3 linked regions of the Homo sapiens genome follow. The protein of the gene in region 3 purifies or fractionates together with the protein of the main gene of each other region. This does not show direct contact. Each region holds a gene or a part of one and is shown on either strand. Other genes may lie near its edges.

Region 1 (5,161 bases), on a different chromosome or scaffold from region 3:
GCTGTTATGGTAGAACCAGCTCTGCAGGAAATTTTTTTTTTAAAAGACAAAATTTCTTAGGGAAAATCATGCATTTCATGTTGGTTAATTTCCAGCAAATACGAAGTTTGACAAAAGAAAAATATTTAGCTAGACTTACATGGCAAAGAGGAAGGTAAACTCATTTTCTTGAGATCGTGCCTATTCCTCTTTTTGCTGTCTCTGTACTCAGAATACACTTTACTTTTCTACCATTAACACTTTGCTGCCTTCTTGAAGAACAGGGCATGCCGCATCTCTGAAGCCACAAGCCAAGCAAGCATAGTACCTGGTACAAGTATAGGCCGAAATATTTGCTGGATATTAGAGTATATGGAAACATAATGAAAGCTTGTCATCATTGACATTTAAATGTGAAACTGTCACCATCAATTTGGACAATTAGAATCCATCTCATCTCGTTTACATGGCAATTCTTCAATATTCTTCACAGAATAAGTAGCCTTTAAAAGTGTGTTCAAATTACTTCTTACTCAAGAGCAAGCAAAATGACATTTTAATTACATTATACATTCTATAATTCTTTATACTAACTAAAGACAAATTGAAAATAATCATATTCTGAAAAGGAAAAACTCCACGTCCGTATAGTTGGCAAAAGATCAGCACAATACTAAGGGTACATGACAAGAGTTTATGGAAAACTGGTATTAGAAAAGAAAGGTTAATCAGATATTCAGATACATGAAATCAGTCTGTAAGTGGGTGGATGGATGTGTGGAAAACCCTTTAAGATTCTGCAAAGGATGAACTTGATATTAAAGAAGAGAGTTAATTTTTACGGTAAAAAGTTGTATCAGTAGAATTATGTGATACAGAAAAAGTCATTTTGAGAGAAGAGAGTCATTTTTAGAATAAAAGGTTAAAATTTGGAAACTCCTGTTCTTCTGTATGTTACATGGTTTTCCACACTGGCATTTTTCATGAATATGGATTATAGTTGGGAAAACCTTACTATCTGATTTGGTATTTAGTTACACACCCCATGTAAATATTGCCTATTATATTCACCAGCCCTCAGTTATTCCAAGTGCCCACTCCTAATTATCCATCGATAGCAAAGAAAATATTGTGACAAAACAAGTTTTATTTTGCAAAACATAATGTGATATGAACTCCACTACAAAATACGGGAACACATTATTTTTAAATTATATAATCCAGCAGAAGAGAAACAGAGTGAATGGAGGTCTAGGGACTGAAAGGATCTCTTGTGGCAAAGGGGAAGAAGACAAAAATACATCACCCAAGATGTGGTAAAGGGGACCAAGAACCACTGAAAAAGTAGTGCAATATGTCTAGGAATAGAAGAAACAGACTGTGTATATATATATATTTGCCTTGTCAATAACATGCATCATTCAAACAATCTCTAATAAAATCTTAGTGAATTAATCTAATGAAAATATTCACACAGTATTATGTAGGCAAATATGTTTAAAAAAATATTTTAATAAGCATATTCAGAATGGCAGACAAGGAATGGGAGAAGGGAATTATTTTACAGTGCAAAATTACTATGCATAAATTTAACATCTAATTTGAAATTTTAAATGCCTATTTAAATATTACTTCAAATACATTTTAAAGCTCAACAAACTTGTGTTGAACTGAATTGCAGATCCTGAACTCTATTTGAAAATACATCATGAAACAGAAAATACCCATTCCAAATGAAAATGATAGTGCTTTGTTGGGGGTGGGAATGAGGCGGGGAGACTAAATCACTATTAACAGACTTCTTTTTCCAATGCAATTTGTCAAAAGTTCAAAAGTTCTGAAATGTACTAAATCTTAAGCAAATTAAATTCATGATATTACTAAAACTTTTTAAATAGTGCAATGACTTATCAAGTTATAGTGGCTGCATTAAGAACAAATTATTGTGTGAAATACCTGTATAAACACAAAATACAATTAAATATTTCTTTACAAAAAGCTGAGCATTACGCATAATAGTGGAATGTCTTTCATTAGGTGTATTTTTTAAAGATTAACAAAAGTAACATTTCCTAAAATGTATACATGTGCCATATTTTTGCAAACATGCCTGAGAATGTATTTAAAACATTTCTGTAGTAAGAGTTTGCAAGAACTTCACAAACCTGCAAATAAAATGCATCTTTTTAAAAAGGTGAAAATGGCATCTCCAACACTGCAACAATTCAAAAAGTACAGCATCCCTAATCTTTAAAAACATTTCTACAGACCATCTTTGACAAAGAGCTAGGATACTTTGGATTCATTTAATAAAAAATGATTTAGAAAACAGATTGTGACCATCTGCTTGCTAAAGCTACTGCCATTCTGGATAAATTAAAAGTTTTAAGTAAAACAAAAACAACAAAAAACTCATACTTCTCAACACTTCCACCCAAAACTTTGATTTACTTAGATATGTATGTAACAACAGTGAATGTACATTAAGATGAAGTCAAGTGTTGCAAAGTGGCTTTTAACACTGTTTGGGAAAAAAAGTTGTTCACATTGGTGAAGGGAAGCAGTCCGAACATATGTTAACAGTAATACTTCATGGGGGTAAGGCCTGAATGCTAATTTCTCAGTGCAAACCTTCACTCAATTACATCAGACAGTTGAGCCATTAAAAACAAGACCACAGAAGCTTTATTTTAAAAAGGCATTGGCTCTTGAACTGATGGCTGAAAAATGAACTGGAAGAAGCATTTGGAGTATGCCTGTGTGAGAAAAACAAGAATAATTAATATTTTATAAAAGTTTGGATATAGGTTGGTCTATCAGCTATATAAAACTACATTATTTAACAAGAATTTAGCACTAAAAATAAAATGGCACTTTTACAAGGCTATGCAGATGGATAATCCTATCTGTAATCACACAGAGCAATGATTATTGTGTATCTTATTTTCACTTTGGAAAAGCATTATCAAATCTGAAAAATTGGATTGTAACTAGAAAAGTTTGAAAAGTTTTCAAACTTCACTTTCTCTTCATAAAATCGATACTGCCTGCCAACAGTTGTTCCTTGTGTGTGCCAATATCTAAGTATCACTTGACCCCCCTCCTCTGTTTATTTAATGCAGAAATGGGAAATTTTATGATGCATATAAAAATAACAGGATTCTGGTCAGCATGATATATTTAAGCACTTAAGCTGACATTAAACTTTTGTCTTGCTTCAAAAATAATTTTGAAAATTATAGCAAATGCAAAACAAACTGCAATCTAAGCATCATGCTTAATTTCAGAATTCTCAAATTACTTGCCCTTAAGTAGAAATTTAAAAAAAAAAAAAAAAAAAAAAATTTTATAATCCTTTATGAATGCTTTAACCACCTGGATAAGAAATATGACTTAATTACTACACAAACACTTAAAAATTCATTAGAAAAACCTTAGCAAAATAAAATGAAAGCTGACAGACTCAGAATAACAATTCCTCTCATAAAAGTTTACCAACTGTACAAGTTAAGAAAATTATACACGCTTTTGTATTAAGAAAGGACAGCTCAGTCAAGACATATGTACTGTAAAAATCTTTCAAAGGCTACAAAGAATCTGGAAAAATACAGAATGTATTTCTTAAGCCCAGATAAGAATATGGAAAGACATCATTGATGTCAACAATTTTACATATACAAACCTGACCTGGTTTATTTTTAAACTTCTATATATAAAAAAATCATGCTAGCATAATTTTCAGGATTCGTAAGGGTTTCCTTAATAAAGATACTCAAACTGTTTGGTGAGAAAAATGTCTGTTTTAAAGACATTTCAAGAAACTCAGAGAAATTGGTATTAAGCAGAAATTTGGACTTGAGTTTCCCATTCATCCATCAAACTAAGCAAAAATTACCTTGTAGTGAAATTTTATGATTAATACATCAAATGAGAAGGTACAGATACATCTTTAGTTCATTCAGATTTACCAAAATTAGTAAATCTGAATGAACTAAAGATATTCAAATGAGAAGGTAGAGATATATCTTTAGTTCATTCAAATTTACTAATTTTTAAAATACCCTTAAAAGAGTCTGACAGCTTTAAAGTAAAAAAATCTGCAAAAGGCAGAATTATGAAACCTCATTTCCTAAAGTTAAGACTCAATTCAAATTTTCAAACTGCTTCAAGGAAATCAACTTTTTAAGGTAACCCATCAACCCTGAAAATTTTAGTCACACCAGAATTTACTCCAAAGAAAGTAAAATAGGTCTAAAATTTAGTCATCTGTGTTTTCAAGTTCTTCAAATTTCCCATGTGAGACTGCTTCTTGGAAAAATTCAGAAGAACCTGGACTTTCTTTTCCATTGCTGTTTACCCTTCGCCTTTTGGCAGGTCTCTCACTTTTTTCATCAAAATCATTTTCATTTCTTGCAGTCATATGGGCAAGTTTTGGGTCAGTGGTAAGGTTATCTGTTTCATAACCATTAGTATCCATATCTGCATGAAGTGGTTTCTTATTTCCACCTGTTGGTCCATTAATGTGTAACCCTTCAACTTTTACTTCCTCTTTGTTTAATATTTCACCTGGTCCATTAGATGACACTCCTAAGTTGAAAGAAATATAAATGAAACCACAATTAGAAAAAAGTTAAATTTGCAAACTATTATAAAACAGCTTGTAGTTATTGTTATCAAGGAAGCAAGGTATCAAATACATAGTCTAAATTCTTGCTCTATTACTTATAAGCTATGTCGCCTTAGGCAAATTATTTACTCTTTCTGTATCTCCATTTCATTACATATATACAATGAAGATCATAATAGATATTCCTCACAGGGTTGTTGTGAAAATTAAATAAGTTAATAAATGTAAAGAACTAAGAACAGAATTTGGCATATGTTAAAAGCATATTAGGTATATGTGACAGCAAACAAGCACTGGATCCAGCAGTCTAACTAAGCTGAATTAATGGAAAATGCAGTAAATTACTCAGATTTAACAAAAGGTTTTCAACATTCTAAAACCACGTAAAAGCAAGATGAATGCTCTTTCTTTAAAAAGCTTGAGTAAACTGCCATATAAAAGCAAGATGTCATGACTTTTTTATTCTTAATGTAAATCTATGGGAACTGTACTTTAAAAGATCACACAAGGCTGGGTGCAGTGGCTCACGCCTGTATTCCCAGCACTTTGGGAGGC
Region 2 (7,031 bases), on a different chromosome or scaffold from region 3:
CACCAAGCCCAGGAGGAGCACAGGGATGGCGGCCCAGGGCTTGGGAAAGGGAGGACGGACAGTGCCTCCTCCCTGTCAGGGGCTGAGTTGGCTGCTTTGCTTGTCCTGGCGTGTGTGGGTGCAGATTGGGTTCCTGCAAGCTGACCTTTGCCCTCTGCTTGTGCAGTCTACGAGAACGAAGACCAGCTGCTCTGGGACCCCAGCGTCCTCCCTGAGAGGGAGGTGGAGGAGTTCCTGTACAGGGCGGTGAAGCGGCGTTGGCACGAGATGGCCGGGCCTCAGCTCCCAGAGGGAGAAGCCGTGAAAGACAGTGAGCAGGTGGGGGCTGCCATGCCGGGGACAGAGGGGCTGAGGGCTGCCGTGGCGTGGGCCAGAGCTCACACCCCAGTGCCTCCAGGGGCCAGGGAGGGCAGAGGGGAGGGCAGGGGTCAGGTGTGTGGGGGCCAGGGCACTGGAACAGCTACTCAGGTCAGAAGGGGGGCCAATTAAAACCACGTATCAGGGAGGAGGTGTAGACGCCTCCGGGTATCCTGCAAGGGGATGTAGACACCCCTGATGTCACTCCCTGGATAGAGGTGTAGGTGGCCCTGACATCGCCCAGGAGGATGGTGTGGACGGCCCCTGATGCCAGTCCCTGGATAGAGGTGTAGGTGGCTCTGACATCGCCCAGGAGGGTGGTGTGGACGGCCCCTGATGCCAGTCCCTGGATAGAGGTGTAGGTGGCCCTGACATCGCCCAGGAGGGTGGTGTGGACGGCCCCTGATGTCACTCCCTGGATAGAGGTGTAGGTGGCCCTGACATCGCCCAGGAGGGTGGTGTGGACGGCCCCTGATGTCACTCCCTGGATAGAGGTGTAGGTGGCCCTGACATCGCCCAGGAGGGTGGTGTGGACGGCCCCTGATGTCACTCCCTGGATAGAGGTGTAGGTGGCCCTGACATTGCCCAGGAGGGTGGTGTGGACGGCCCCTGATGTCACTCCCTGGATAGAGGTGTAGGTGGCCCTGACATCGCCCAGGAGGGTGGTGTGGACGGCCCCTGATGTCACTCCCTGGATAGAGGTGTAGGTGGCCCTGACATCGCCCAGGAGGGTGGTGTGGACGGCCCCTGATGTCACTCCCTGGATAGAGGTGTAGGTGGCCCTGACATCGCCCAGGAGGGTGGTGTGGACGGCCCCTGATGCCAGTCCCTGGATAGAGGTGTAGGTGGCTCTGACATCGCCCAGGAGGGTGGTGTGGACGGCCCCTGATGTCACTCCCTGGATAGAGGTGTAGGTGGCCCTGACATCGCCCAGGAGGGTGGTGTGGACGGCCCCTGATGTCACTCCCTGGATAGAGGTGTAGGTGGCCCTGACATCGCCCAGGAGGGTGGTGTGGACGGCCCCTGATGTCACTCCCTGGATAGAGGTGTAGGTGGCTCTGACATCGCCCAGGAGGGTGGTGTGGACGGCCCCTGATGCCACTCGCTGGATGGTATAGACAGTTCTTGCTGTCGGCTCCTGCGCTGAGCCCATGGAAGAGCCAACATGTCCTCTCCCCAGGCGCTGTACGAGTTGGTGAAATGCAACTTCAATGTGGAGGAGGCCCTGCGAAGGCTGCGGTTCAACGTGAAGGTGATCCGAGGTGAGCAGCGGTCTGGGCCTTCCTTCCGCTGCGGCCCCGCCCTGGGCACTGCTGACCGTTCTCCCCGGCCTGGGCCTTCCTTCCGCTGCGGCCCCGCCCTGGGCGCCGCTGACCGTTCTCCCCGGCCTGGGCCTTCCTTCCGCTGCGGCCCCGCCCTGGGCGCCGCTGACTGTTCTCCCCGGCCTGGGCCTTCCTTCCGCTGCGGCCCCGCCCTGGGCACCACTGACCGTTCTCCCCGGCCGTGTTTGCAGATGGGCTCTGTGCTTGGAGTGAAGAGGAGTGCAGGAACTTTGAGCACGGCTTCCGTGTGCATGGAAAGAACTTTCACCTGATCCAGGCCAACAAGGTGCGGACTCCACTGCCAGGCTCCACCGGGGGCTTCTCGATCTGGGGAGGGGCTCAGGGTCCGCAGGCACACAGCACACGGCCGACTGGAGGCCTGGAGCCCCGTGTCCTGTGTCCGCCTCCTCACCGTGTGCCCATTGCTGTCTTCTGCATTTTTTGCTACTGACTGCTGTGGGCCCCTTTCCTGTCCCCACAAGAACAAGGCTCTGGCTTTGGGAAAGAATGTGGCAAAAGCTGAATTCTAGTAGTTGTTTCTGCCTCACATTCCACCCCAGGGCCCTGGGCACCTCATCTTCAAGTCTGTGTCCTCTGAGCAGAGCCTGCTGGCTCAGTGTCCAGCATTGGCCCCACAGCAGAACCCCTGACACCTGGAGACCAGGGGTCTCCTGGTTCCCTCCTCCAGGGACCCAGGTCCTGCCACCCGGGACAAACCCTCATGACAGGCAGGTGCTGCCAAGTGCCGGGGCCTTCTGCCCTTCCTTAGACCTTCCCCACGTCCTCTGTGGGTCTCTGCATGTCTGCAGCAGTGCCCTCTGCCCTGTGGCTTCTTGAGTGGTAACTTCCAAGCCAGCCTCTTGGCAGTCAGACATCTCTGGCTGAAAACCTTCCCATGGCTCTGACCAGTGGCTTCTCCGCCTCTGTCCACGCCCCGGTTGGGCACTGAGTCCCTTCAGGACCAGTGGGCTGTGGCCTTGTTGCCGAGCCTTGCTTCTGCCTCGTGTCCTGGGACCGTGCTCCATTTGGGGCCCGATGTCGTCCACTGAAGGGCTTGGGTGAGGAGGCACCTGCCCGGGGCTGGTTGTACGGCTCAGGACATTGCTCAGGTGACTGTGCGGTGCCGTGCGCAGCAGCGATGGACTGTCCTTGTCAGACTCCAGCACCACGTGGTGTTTTGATTGGAGACAGCGGGGCGAGGTGTGGCTGGAGTGTGGTGCTCCCAGGCTACACTTGGAGCCCCTGTCAAGTTTCTGTAGCTCCGGGCCGTGTTTCTGGAGTTGTGGGCCGTGTTTCTGGACTCCTGGCCGTGTTTCTACAGCTCCAGGCTGTGTTTCTGGACTCTGGGCCGTGTTTCTATGGACTCCGTGTTTCTGTAGCTCCGGGCTGTGTTTCTACAGCTCCGGGCCATGTTCCTATAGCTCCGGGCCGTGTTTCTATAGCTCTGGGCTGTGTTTCTGGAGCTTCGGGCTGTGTTTCTGGACTCTGGGCTGTTTCTATAGCTCCGGGCTGTGTTTCTATAGCTCCCGGCTGTGTTTCTGCAGCTCCCGGCCGTGTTTCTATAGCTCCGGGCCGTGTTTCTGCAGCTCCGGGCCGTGTTTCTATAGCTCAGGGCCGCGTTTTTGTAACTCCCGGCCGTGTTTCTGGAGCTCCGGGCAGGTCCTGGCCCAGCCGCGAGGGGCCGTGTGTAGCCAGCACACGTTGGTCAGCCTGAGCCAGTGCGTATTTCACCCTGGCCCTTCACAGAAGAGCTCCCTCGTGGCGTGCGTTTGAGGTTTGCCCTGCAGGGAGGTTGTCTCGGTCTCGCCCCCAGGCAGGACCCCACGTTGTTCTCGCAGCGGTGAGCATGGGGCATCCTCGTTCTGGGTGGCGGTGGGTTAGTTGGCCCAGAGCATGTCCAGGTGAGGGGGTCTTTTCCGCCATCACCAGCAGTGGCCACAGCCTCAAGCTCTCTGTGGGATGAGCCTCCCGGGTGGAGATGTTGGAGGTGTTGCCAGGTGTGCGCCCAGCTCTGTGCCAGGTGCCACATGGAACACACTTGCTGTGTGTCCCTTCTCGTGTCCCTGAAGCCTTGTGTGCGTGTGTGTGTGTGTCCCTTCTCGTCTCCCTGAAGCCTTGTGTGCGTGTGTGTGTGTGTCCCTTCTCGTCTCCCTGAAGCCTTGTGTGCGTGTGTGTGTCTCTTCTCGTCTCCCTGAAGCCTTGTGTGCGTGTGTGTGTGTGTCCCTTCTCGTGTCCCTGAAGCCTTGTGTGCGTGTGTGTCCCTTCTCGTCTCCCTGAAGCCTTGTGTGCGTGTGTGTGTGTGTCCCTTCTCGTCTCCCTGAAGCCTTGTGTGTGTGTGTGTGTGTCCCTTCTCGTCTCCCTGAAGCCTTGTGTGCGTGTGTGTGTGTCCCTTCTCGTGTCCCTGAAGCCTTGTGTGCGTGTGTGTGTCCCTTCTCGTCTCCCTGAAGCCTTGTGTGTGTGTGTGTGTGTGTGTCCCTTCTCGTCTCCCTGAAGCCTTGTGTGCGTGTGTGTGTCCCTTCTCGTCTCCCTGAAGCCTTGTGTGTGTGTGTGTGTGTGTCCCTTCTCGTCTCCCTGAAGCCTGTGTGCATGTGTGTTTGGCCCTTTATGTGCTACGTTGGGAATTTTGTCGGGTTCACAGAACCCATGTGTCCTTCTGCGGTGTCTTCTGTGCACTTGGGAAGCATTCGCTGGGCCCTGGAGGGATGTGTTCGGTGGGAAAGCAGGCGCCGCGGGCTTGTGCCTCTTCCTCCCGGGGAAGGGGCTCAGTCCAGGAGTCTGTGGACCCGGGGGTTGTCACTCCCACTCCCACCCCGGGCCTGTGAGAAGCAGGCAGATGAGGTGGACGCAACTGGCCCGTGGCTCATGGTCTGGGATGGGGTGGGTGAGCAGTAGACAGAGGCCTGGAGGGTACGTTTGTCTGGCTGATGCTACAGAAGGGAAAGGGGTCTCAAGCCAGGAGCTGGAGGGCTCTGAGGGGGCTTGAAACAGGAGGCAGTGCCACAGTGCTCCGAGCCCCTGTTCCCTGTGGTGGGCATAGCCTGTGGCCTGTTAGGGTCATGGGTCGGGGGGTCTTGCGTTATCTGAGAGTGGTGGGTGCTGTGCTCCTTCTGTGCTGTCCCGGGGTCCCAGGACGTCCTGGGATCGTGGTGCAGGTGCTGGGGCTGGGCAGCCGGGGACAGAGATGGCTCCTGACCCCTCCCCGCAGGTGCGCACACGGTCAGTGGGCGAGTGTGTCGAGTACTACTACCTGTGGAAGAAGTCGGAGCGCTACGACTACTTCGCCCAGCAGACGCGGCTGGGCCGGAGGAAGTACGTCCCGTCCGGAACCACGTGCGTGCAGCCCTCCCCAGCAGTAACGACAGGCGGCCACCCCGCCGGGGGTGGGCACGTGGGCGCCTGGGCGGCACCTCTTGGGTGGGGGCGTCTGTCCTGTCTGCCGCCCCTCATGGCGCCCTCTCCCCACAGGGACGCAGACCAGGACCTGGATGGCAGCGACCCCGATGGCCCCGGCCGTCCGCGCCCGGAGCAAGACACCCTGACTGGGATGCGCACAGGTGAGGCTTGGGGAGTATCTCCTGCCCTGGGGGCGGCCACGGGTCTGGAGCCGTGAGTGAGGCCCGGTGGAGCCTCTCCTGCCTGGCGCCCTGTGCTGGGCCAGCCTCGCCAGGAGGAGTGGGCGTCTGGGTGGCGGAGGGCAGCCACGTGATGTGGATGCCGCTCTGTACACCTGGCTGGGAGAGGGGAGGGCAGGGATTACGCTTACCCTCTGGGCTTGCTGGAGGGGTGCATGTGGCCCCACTGCTGGGGAGCCCCGTATGGTGAGGTTGGGGTATTTACCAGGCCTCAGTCTCCGGGGAGGGCCTTCCTGCCCCAGGGTGGGGACTTAGCCCGTCACCAGGACACTCAGGAAGGACAGGGTGTCCGGAGCCGTCGCCAGGATCTTGCACCTGAGGCCATGACGGAGCACAGCAGGGCCTCGGGTAGGGACCATGTCCGATGGTGGTGTCTGATGTGGCGTCCGAAGGTGGAGACCCACACGGGGAGGGTGCAAACGAGGATCCTTTGCTTTCTGGCTCTGTGTTTAGATGGTTGAGTCTGGGAGGGTCCCCCATTTCCAGAGTCTGGTTGTTTCCATGGTTTGTTTGCCAAAGGGTGTCCACCTCGGCTACTTCCTAGAATTGTGGTGAGGCCCCTTGCGCTGCCTGTGGGAACAAAACTTCCAAAGACCCTGTATTAGCCCTCGCAGCGCCCCCGGCATTGTTTACACCTAAGTCTGTGTATTCCACAGACCCTGTATTTACCCTCTGCAGTGCCCCCGGCATTGTTTACACCTATGTCTATTGTATTCTGCTCTTTTTAAAGATGTGGGTTGTGACCCACTGTTGGTCTGATGAACTAAAATCTACTTCTAAAGCTGAGACCCTTAACCTGGGGCTCGCGGATTTCAGTGTAACTGGTGTCTTTTGTATTTGTGTGGAGGCTTTTCTGGGGAGGGATCCACAGGCTTTGCTGGACCCAGCAAAGTTAGGCAGGAGCCTGCACAGGATCCGCGGCTGTGGGCAGGCCCCACCCTCTGTTGCGTTCTCTTTCACAGATCCACTGAGCGTGGATGGCACGGCCGGTGGTCTCGATGAGCCCGGAGTGGCCTCTGATGGACTCCCGTCCTCGGAGCCAGGGCCGTGTTCCTTCCAGCAGCTGGATGAGTCCCCCGCTGTACCCCTGTCCCATCGGCCCCCAGCCCTGGCCGACCCAGCCTCATACCAGCCAGCTGTCACTGCTCCGGAGCCAGACGCCAGCCCAAGGCTGGCCGTGGACTTCGCCCTGCCCAAGGAGCTGCCCCTCATCTCCAGCCATGTGGACCTCAGCGGGGATCCGGAGGAGACTGTGGCCCCAGCACAGGTGGCTTTGTCGGTCACCGAGTTTGGACTCATCGGCATTGGGGACGTGAACCCCTTCCTGGCCGCCCACCCCACGTGCCCGGCCCCCGGGCTACACTCGGAGCCCCTGTCACAGTGAGTGCCACCCCATGCCCGGAGCCTCCGCAACACTCCAACCAGGTCCCCCCAGCCCTCAGGCTGAGCAGAGGAGGGTGGGAGGCATTTGCCCCAAGGACCCGAGGACAGTGTGGCTCCACGAGCAGGCTCTCAGTGTGTCTTTAGGTTTATTCTTTACTTGTATGTATTTTTTGACTGGAGAATACATTCATGTGGTCCACATTCTCCACAAATGGGAGCAGGTGCCAGGCTGTCCCACCCCTGCTCCAGCCACCAGCTCCCCTCAGGGCACCCCGGGCCCGGCTGCCATAGGCTGTGGGGGAGGCAAGGCTGGGAGTCTCGAGTCCAGCGCTCAGCA
Region 3 (7,031 bases):
TGCATGTTCTTAACCATGAAGGTACCTATGATCAATAGTAGAAGTGGAAAATGTCATCTGCAGGTCATAAAGGGGCATACCACAGGATTTACACTTATAATAACAACAGCTAGTTTGTGTTATACCAGTGTGCTAAGCCCTGGGCTGGACCTTTAGATGCATTATTTGGCTTTGATTCTTATGATTTTGTGAAGGATTATAATCCTTGATTTATAGCTGTGCAAAAGAAATTCAGAGAAGTAACTTGGTCCACGGTCACCAACTATCAAATGGATGAACCTAATCCAAACTGAGGTCTTCCTAATTGCAAATCCTGTTTTCTTAAACACTACCTGTCCTCTGGATCTGAGCAAGGAAGAAGCCAGGTGCCAAAATTCCTCCCACTAAGCAAAGCCATGAAGTTGTGAAATAATATTTCTGAGAAGCTCGGTTAGCACAAAGACAACAACGCGAGATATGAATCTGGATATTTCAGACAGCAAAAGAGAATTTTGAGACAAATATGTTTTTAACTCACCCAAGTTTAAAAATAGAATATATTTATATAATTGACTACATTAAGATGTTAAAGAAGAAAACTTAAGGTAGGGTGTTTACCGTTAGTAATAATTTATTGTATATTTCAAAATACCTAGAAGAGAAGAACTGGAATGCTCCCAACACAAAGTAAAGATAAATGAAATAATGGGTATCCCAATTACCCTGATTTGTTCATTACCCATTGTATACTTTTATCAAAATATCATATGTACCACAAAAATATGTTATGATTATTATACATCAATTAAAAAATAAATAAACATTGGCCGGACGTGATGGTTCACACCTGTAATCCCAGCACTTTGGGAGGCCGAGGCGGGTGGATCATTTGAGGTCAGGAGTTCGAGACCAGCCTGACCAACATGGTGAAACCCCGTCTCTACTAAAAAAAAAAAAAAAAAAAAAAATTAGCCACATGTTGTGGCACGAGCCTGTAATCCCAGCTACTCGGGAGGCTGAGGCAGGAGAATTGCTTGAGCCTAGGAGGCAGGTGTTGCAGTGAGCCAAGGTGGCAGCACTGCACTCCAGCCTGGGTGATAGAGCAAGACTCCATCTCAAAAAAAAAAAACAAAAAAGGTATATTCATCTCAGCAGAGATAGCAAAAGCATTCAATAAAATTCCACATCCATTTATGATTTAAGAAGAAAAACAAAACCTTTGCACAAACAGGGGTAGGAGGAAATGTGACGCATCTGTACTCAATGGTAAAATATTAGAAGCATTCTTTTTATTTATTAATTCTTTTTTAGCCTTTGGCAGGCATTCTCTTTAAAATAAAAAATAGTCAAAGATTCTTTTTTTTTTTTTTTTTTTGAGACAGGGTCTTGCTGTGTCACCCAGGCTGGAGTTCAGTGGTGGGATCTCAGCTCACTGCAGCCTTGACCTCCCAGGCTTAAGCAATCCTCCTATCTCAGCCTTCTGAGTAGCTGGGACCACAGGTGTGCACCACCAGAGCTGGCTTATTTTTATATCTTTTGTACAGACGGGGTTTTGCCATGTTTCCCAGGCTGGTCTGGAACTCCTGAGCTCAAGCAATCCTCCCACCTAGGCATCCCAAAGTGCTGGAATTATGGGTATGAGCCACTGTGCCTGGCCCCAAAAGTCAAAGATTTTTCTCTCTACTTCTCTACTTCTTATGGCTTCTATACACTTCTACATACTTCAGTACTTCTACACACTTGAATTCTGTACTGCACTGGCTAGGATACAGAGGATAAGATACTCTATAGGATGCAATTGGCTTTGTACATAAATAGTAGGAGCAGAGATGATTCAATAAATGGTGATGGGAAGATAGTTTACCCATCTGGAAAAAAATGAAGTTGAATCACATCACCTCACACATTAAAATTAATTCCAGATGAAGTAAGTACTTAAATATCAAAGACAAAACTATTTTTCATATTGTTGGGGTTTTTTTGGTTTGTTTTTTCTGTGTACTAGAGTAGAAAAGTAAAAGACAAAATTTTAATGCTCTTAGTAGAAAGCATAAGATGATATTTTGACCTCAGGGTAGAGAAGAATTTCATAAACAAGTCACCAAAAGAAAACAAAACAAAGAATGATAGTCTCAGAGGAAAAGATGATTAATTTGGTTACATTAAAATTGACAATTTCTGTTTATCAAAAGATGTTAACAACAGAGAAAATGCAAGCTTCAAACTAGGAGAAGATATAGCAATATATATAAATGAAAAAGAATTCGATATAGAATTCCTATAAATCTTTAAGAAAAAGAGAAACATTTTTTAAATAGACAAAAGACACAAACAGGTGTGTCTTAGAAGATAAAACACAAGTGAAATGAACATTAAAACTACAAGAATACATCATTAAGTACCAACTAGTTTAGCAAGGATTTAAAGTTTAAAGAGGGTGCAAGCTGGTAAGGATATGGGAACTCATAAACTTCTGGCAGGAATATAATCTGGGTCAATCACTTGGGAAAACAATTTAGCATTATCTTTTTAGGTTGAGCTTGTAATTTCACTACTATGTATATGCCCAGAGAAACCTTTAGATGTGAGGACCAGGAGATGTATATATGAATATTCAATGCAGCATAGTTTCTAACTGAAAATAGCAAGAGAACAGGTAAGTAAATTTGTGGCATATTTATACAGTGGAATACAAAAGTAAAAATGAATGAACTATAGCCAGAGGAATCAATACAGTTTAATCAGTAGAGTTAAAAAAAAGTTGCAATAGAATATATATGAGACCATTTTTTAAAAAAAGTTTCATTTAAAAAGCAAAATTAAACAATATATGATTTAATTAATCAATATTTAAACATCTTGTTTAATTAATCAATATTATTTAATTAAACATCTTGTTTAATCAATATATTGATTCACAGTATGTGATTAAAGTATTTTAAAAAGCAGAGAATGAGAATAAACACCGGGAGAATGGTAACCTCTAGGGGTTGGGGTAGGTAAGAACTTTATCTGGTTGAGGAGAAGAGATGAGGAGGAAGGAGAAGGAGAAGTCAGAGAGTTTCCAAGCCAGCGAGATGGACTGGATGTCCATTGCTGGTAGGGAGATGAAGGGAGCCGGGTACAAGGAAGAGAGGACTCCAAGGTTCAGGGCAGCCCCAGCTGATGGCCAGCAAGGGAACAGGGACCTCAGTCCTGCACATACAAGGACCTGGACTCTGCCATCAAGCTGAATTTGCTTTAAGCTGATTCTACCCTAGTCTCCCAATCAGAGCCCTGGAAGGCTGACACCTTGATACTGGCCTTGTTAGACCCAGAGCAGAGAAACCAGACAAGCCAATCTGGACTTCTGATGTACAGGTACTGTGAGGTCATAAATTTATGTTGTTTCAGGCCATTAAGTCTGTGGTAATTGGTTACCACAATAGAAAATGAATTATTTATGGATTTTTTTTTACCTTTATTGATTTACTTTTCCTGGTATATTTTGCTGTTCCCTTATAGTTACCTAAGTAAATAGCTTATGTATTTTAAGTTTTCTTTCCAAAAAATATAATAAAAGCATTTAAGCCTATATTCCTCTGGGAACCATTTTAATTAAACCCCAAAGATTTTTATTTATTTATTTTTTTGAGATCAGGGTCTGGCTCTGTTGCCCAGGCTGGAGTGCAATGGTATAATCTCAGCTTACTGTAACCTCTGCCTCCTGGTCTCAAGGGAGCTGTGCACCTCATCATCCCAAGTAGCCAGGACAACAGGTGTGCACCACCCTGCCCAGCTAATTTTTGTGTTTTTGTTTTAGAGATGAGGTTCCGCCATGTTGCCCAAGCTGATCTCAAACGTCTGGGCTTAAGCGATCCACTGGTCTCAGCTTTTCAAAGTGCTGGGATCACAGGAGTGAGCAGTGCACTATGCCCAGCCAGGACCCACAGATTTTTAAATAGGTATTCTCTTTATTGCTAATTGTTAGATCAGTCTCTCTCTTGATTTCTCTCTCTCTCGATCTCTCTCTCTGTCTTTCCTTTATTTGTAGAGACAGTCTCCCTATGTTGCCCAGTCTGGTCTTGAACTTCGGAGCTCAAATGATCCTCCCACCTCGGCCTTCGAAAATGCTGGAATTATAGGCATGAGCCAGCATGCCCAGCCTGATATTTCTTAATTTTACATATTAAGATATAGAGCAGAGTATAAGTTGGTTTTTAGAGAATCCAGATTAAAAGTCATATCCAGTATAAGAAATCTTTATTTCTTATTATTTTGTTCTGTGAATTCTGCAATTCTGGTGCTCTCTGAGGGGAAAATAGTTATAATAGAAACAAATGTAAAGAATGTTTAGAAAACATTTACAGTCACTGGGCGCGGTGGCTCACACCTGTAATCCTAGCACTTTGGGAGGCTGAGGCAGGCGGATCACCTGAGGTCAGGAGTTCAAGACTAGCCTGGCCAACATGGTGAAACCCCATCTCTACTAAAATACAAAAATTAGCCTGGCACGATGGTGGGTACCTGTAATCCCAGCTACTTGGGAGGCTGAAACAGGAGAATCACTTGAACCCTGGAGACAGTGGTTGCAGTGAGCCAAGATCGCAGCACTGCACTCCAGCCTGGGTGGCTAAGCGAGACTCTGTCTCAAAAAAAAAAAAAAAAAAAAAGAAAAGAAAACATTTACAGTCTCTGAATTGTTTTTATAACTTGCTTGTAAATACACTGAAATACTGACCTGTAACAAATAGCATATGACAGCTATCAGTCCAACCCAGCTGTGCAGACTGTACATATTGGCTATATTGTTAACATTGTGGTTCTCAAACACGGCCACCACAGAGATAATTGCAAGAATGGCAGCAACTGCATTTAACCCTGCATGGATGGATTTCATCAGGAGCTTGCTGCATTTCCAGGTCCACGGCAGTCTGTAGACGATGATGGCTAGGGAAAGACGAAAGGACACAGAATGTGTTTTGTTTTGTTTTTTAAACAACACAAAATGAACAGTTTGACACACTGGACACTCCCTTTTTGAAACCTTTTTCCCTTGGCTTTTGCTTCTCCCCTCTTCCCCATGTTACCCCTGCCTCTCAGTGGCTCCCTCTAGGGGACGGTGGAGGAGTTCCTTTGCTGGCATTTTCTTCACTCCCAACTTGTGAATGAACCTTGGTGCCTCTCAGGCTCGGTCCTAGGGCTTTTTCTCCCTCTGCACTCCCTCTTGTGGGTGATCTCATTCACTCTTTCACTGAAATGCTGTCTCCATGGCAGGGACTCCAAAAAATTTATATCTCCAGCCCAGAACTGTCTTCTAAGCTTCAGATCTGCATAATCCAATGTCTTCTTGGTATTTCCGTACGGCGTTTGCTTCCCAGACATCTCAAACTTATCCAAAACCAAATTCCTAATCTTAACAATCTGATTTATGCCTGTTGTCTCCTTTCTTCTTAAAAATGTCTCAGTTTGGCCGGGCCCAGTGGCTCATGCCTGTAATCCCAGCACTTTGAGAGGCTGAGGCGGGGTATCACTTGAGGTCAGCAGTTCAAGACCAGCCTGGCCAACATGGTGAAACCCCATCTCTACTAAAAATACAAAAATTAGCCAGGCATGGGGTGGCATGCACATGTAATCCCAGCTATTCTGGAGGCTGAGGCACGAGAATCGCTTGAACCCGGGAGGCAGAGGTTGCAGTGAGCCGAGATTGCGCCACTGCACTCCAGCCTGGGCAACAGAGGAAGACAAAAAAAAAAAAAAAAGTCTTAGTTTGATAAGAAAAAGAAAGGAACAGAAAAACATGCAAATTTAAACCATGCAATAGAGAAATACAAATTTAAGCCGAATGAGAATACCTCTACCACATATCTGAATGGCTAAACCTGGAAAACACCAAGTATCAAAATGAATATACAGCAGTCAGAACTCTAATGTTCTGCTGATGAGTGCTTTAATGAGAACAAAACTTTGGAAAACTGGCAGTATCTACTTAAGGTAAAGTTATGCATACCTTATTGTCCAGCAATTTCACTCTCGGGTATATGCCAAAAAGAAATATTTATATGATCATCAAAAGATACTAGAATATTATTAGCAGTACTATTTATAGTAACCAAAACCTGGAAACTCCCCCAAATGCCCATCATCAATAGAATGAATAAATAAATTTACACCATGGAAAGAAACGATCTACAACTAGAACTAGACCCAGTAATATGGATCAACCTATAATGTCAATCTCAAGAAGCCAGACGTTAACAAGTATATAGTGTAATTCAATTTATATGAAGTATAGAAACCAGCAAAACTCATCTCTGCATTGGAAAAGTCAGGATAGTAGTTGCCTTCGTGGGGAAGGATACAGCAATTACAATGGAACACACAAGGGATTTTGAAGACTCCTACTAACATTCTGTTTCTCAATCTAGGTGCTGGTTTCACAGGTGTCATAGACAGAAGATTCATCATTCTGCATGTAGAACAAACTCCAATTAAGTTTTTTATGGCCTGGCGCGGTGGCTCACGCCTGTAATCCCAACACTTTGGGAGGCCGAGGTGGGCAGATCACTTGAGGTCAGGAGTTCAAGACCAGCCTGACCAACATGGTGAAACCCTGTCTCTACTAAAAATACAAAAAAATTAGCCAGGCATTGTGGTGCATACCTGTAATCTCAGCTATTTGGGAGGCTGAGGCAGGAGAATCGCTTGAACCTGGGAGGCAGAGGTTGCAGTGAGCTGAGATCATGCCACTGCACTCCAGCCTGGGTGACAGAGCAAGACTCCGTCTCGGGGAAAAAAAAAAAAAGAAAACAAAAGTTTTTTTACAAAGGGTTGTCTTAAGTGTCCTGGTTTAAGCAATAAATTATATGGCCACCTTAACCAACATTCAGTTAATTTTTGTTCTGAAGATAAAATCCTGCCCCTATCCATCCCTCCAGTCTGTGTCAGGGAAAATTTAGATATCTGGAAATGTGTGGCAGATTGAAAAAGTTTATAGAATACTTCCTCAGACGATGGATTCCACTATATCAGCAGGGTATCACGTATATTTCTTTTCTTTTCTTTCTCTGTCA

What was found. The genes of interacting proteins can lie anywhere in the genome.
Region 1: the proteins of CYBRD1 (region 3) and MIER1 purify together in Homo sapiens (affinity purification with mass spectrometry; 2 studies listed by BioGRID and IntAct, with this or other methods). This does not show direct contact.
Region 2: the proteins of CYBRD1 (region 3) and MIER2 purify together in Homo sapiens (affinity purification with mass spectrometry; 2 studies listed by BioGRID and IntAct, with this or other methods). This does not show direct contact.

What each region holds. Positions count from the first base shown.
Region 1 is NC_000001.11:66,983,977-66,989,137, reverse strand, and holds the end of MIER1 (mesoderm induction early response protein 1), read right to left. Parts: intron 4,567-5,161; coding exon 4,238-4,566; 3' UTR 2,736-4,237; coding exon of another isoform or gene 2,665-2,735; 3' UTR 519-2,664; downstream 1-518. UniProt on the Homo sapiens protein: Transcriptional repressor regulating the expression of a number of genes including SP1 target genes. Probably functions through recruitment of HDAC1 a histone deacetylase involved in chromatin silencing.
Region 2 is NC_000019.10:306,779-313,809, reverse strand, and holds part of MIER2 (mesoderm induction early response protein 2), read left to right. Parts: intron 1-166; coding exon 167-318; intron 319-1,537; coding exon 1,538-1,619; intron 1,620-1,870; coding exon 1,871-1,965; intron 1,966-4,884; coding exon 4,885-5,009; intron 5,010-5,144; coding exon 5,145-5,233; intron 5,234-6,273; coding exon 6,274-6,691; intron 6,692-7,031. UniProt on the Homo sapiens protein: Transcriptional repressor.
Region 3 is NC_000002.12:171,539,462-171,546,492, reverse strand, and holds part of CYBRD1 (plasma membrane ascorbate-dependent reductase CYBRD1), read right to left. Parts: intron 4,909-7,031; coding exon 4,700-4,908; intron 1-4,699. UniProt on the Homo sapiens protein: Plasma membrane reductase that uses cytoplasmic ascorbate as an electron donor to reduce extracellular Fe(3+) into Fe(2+).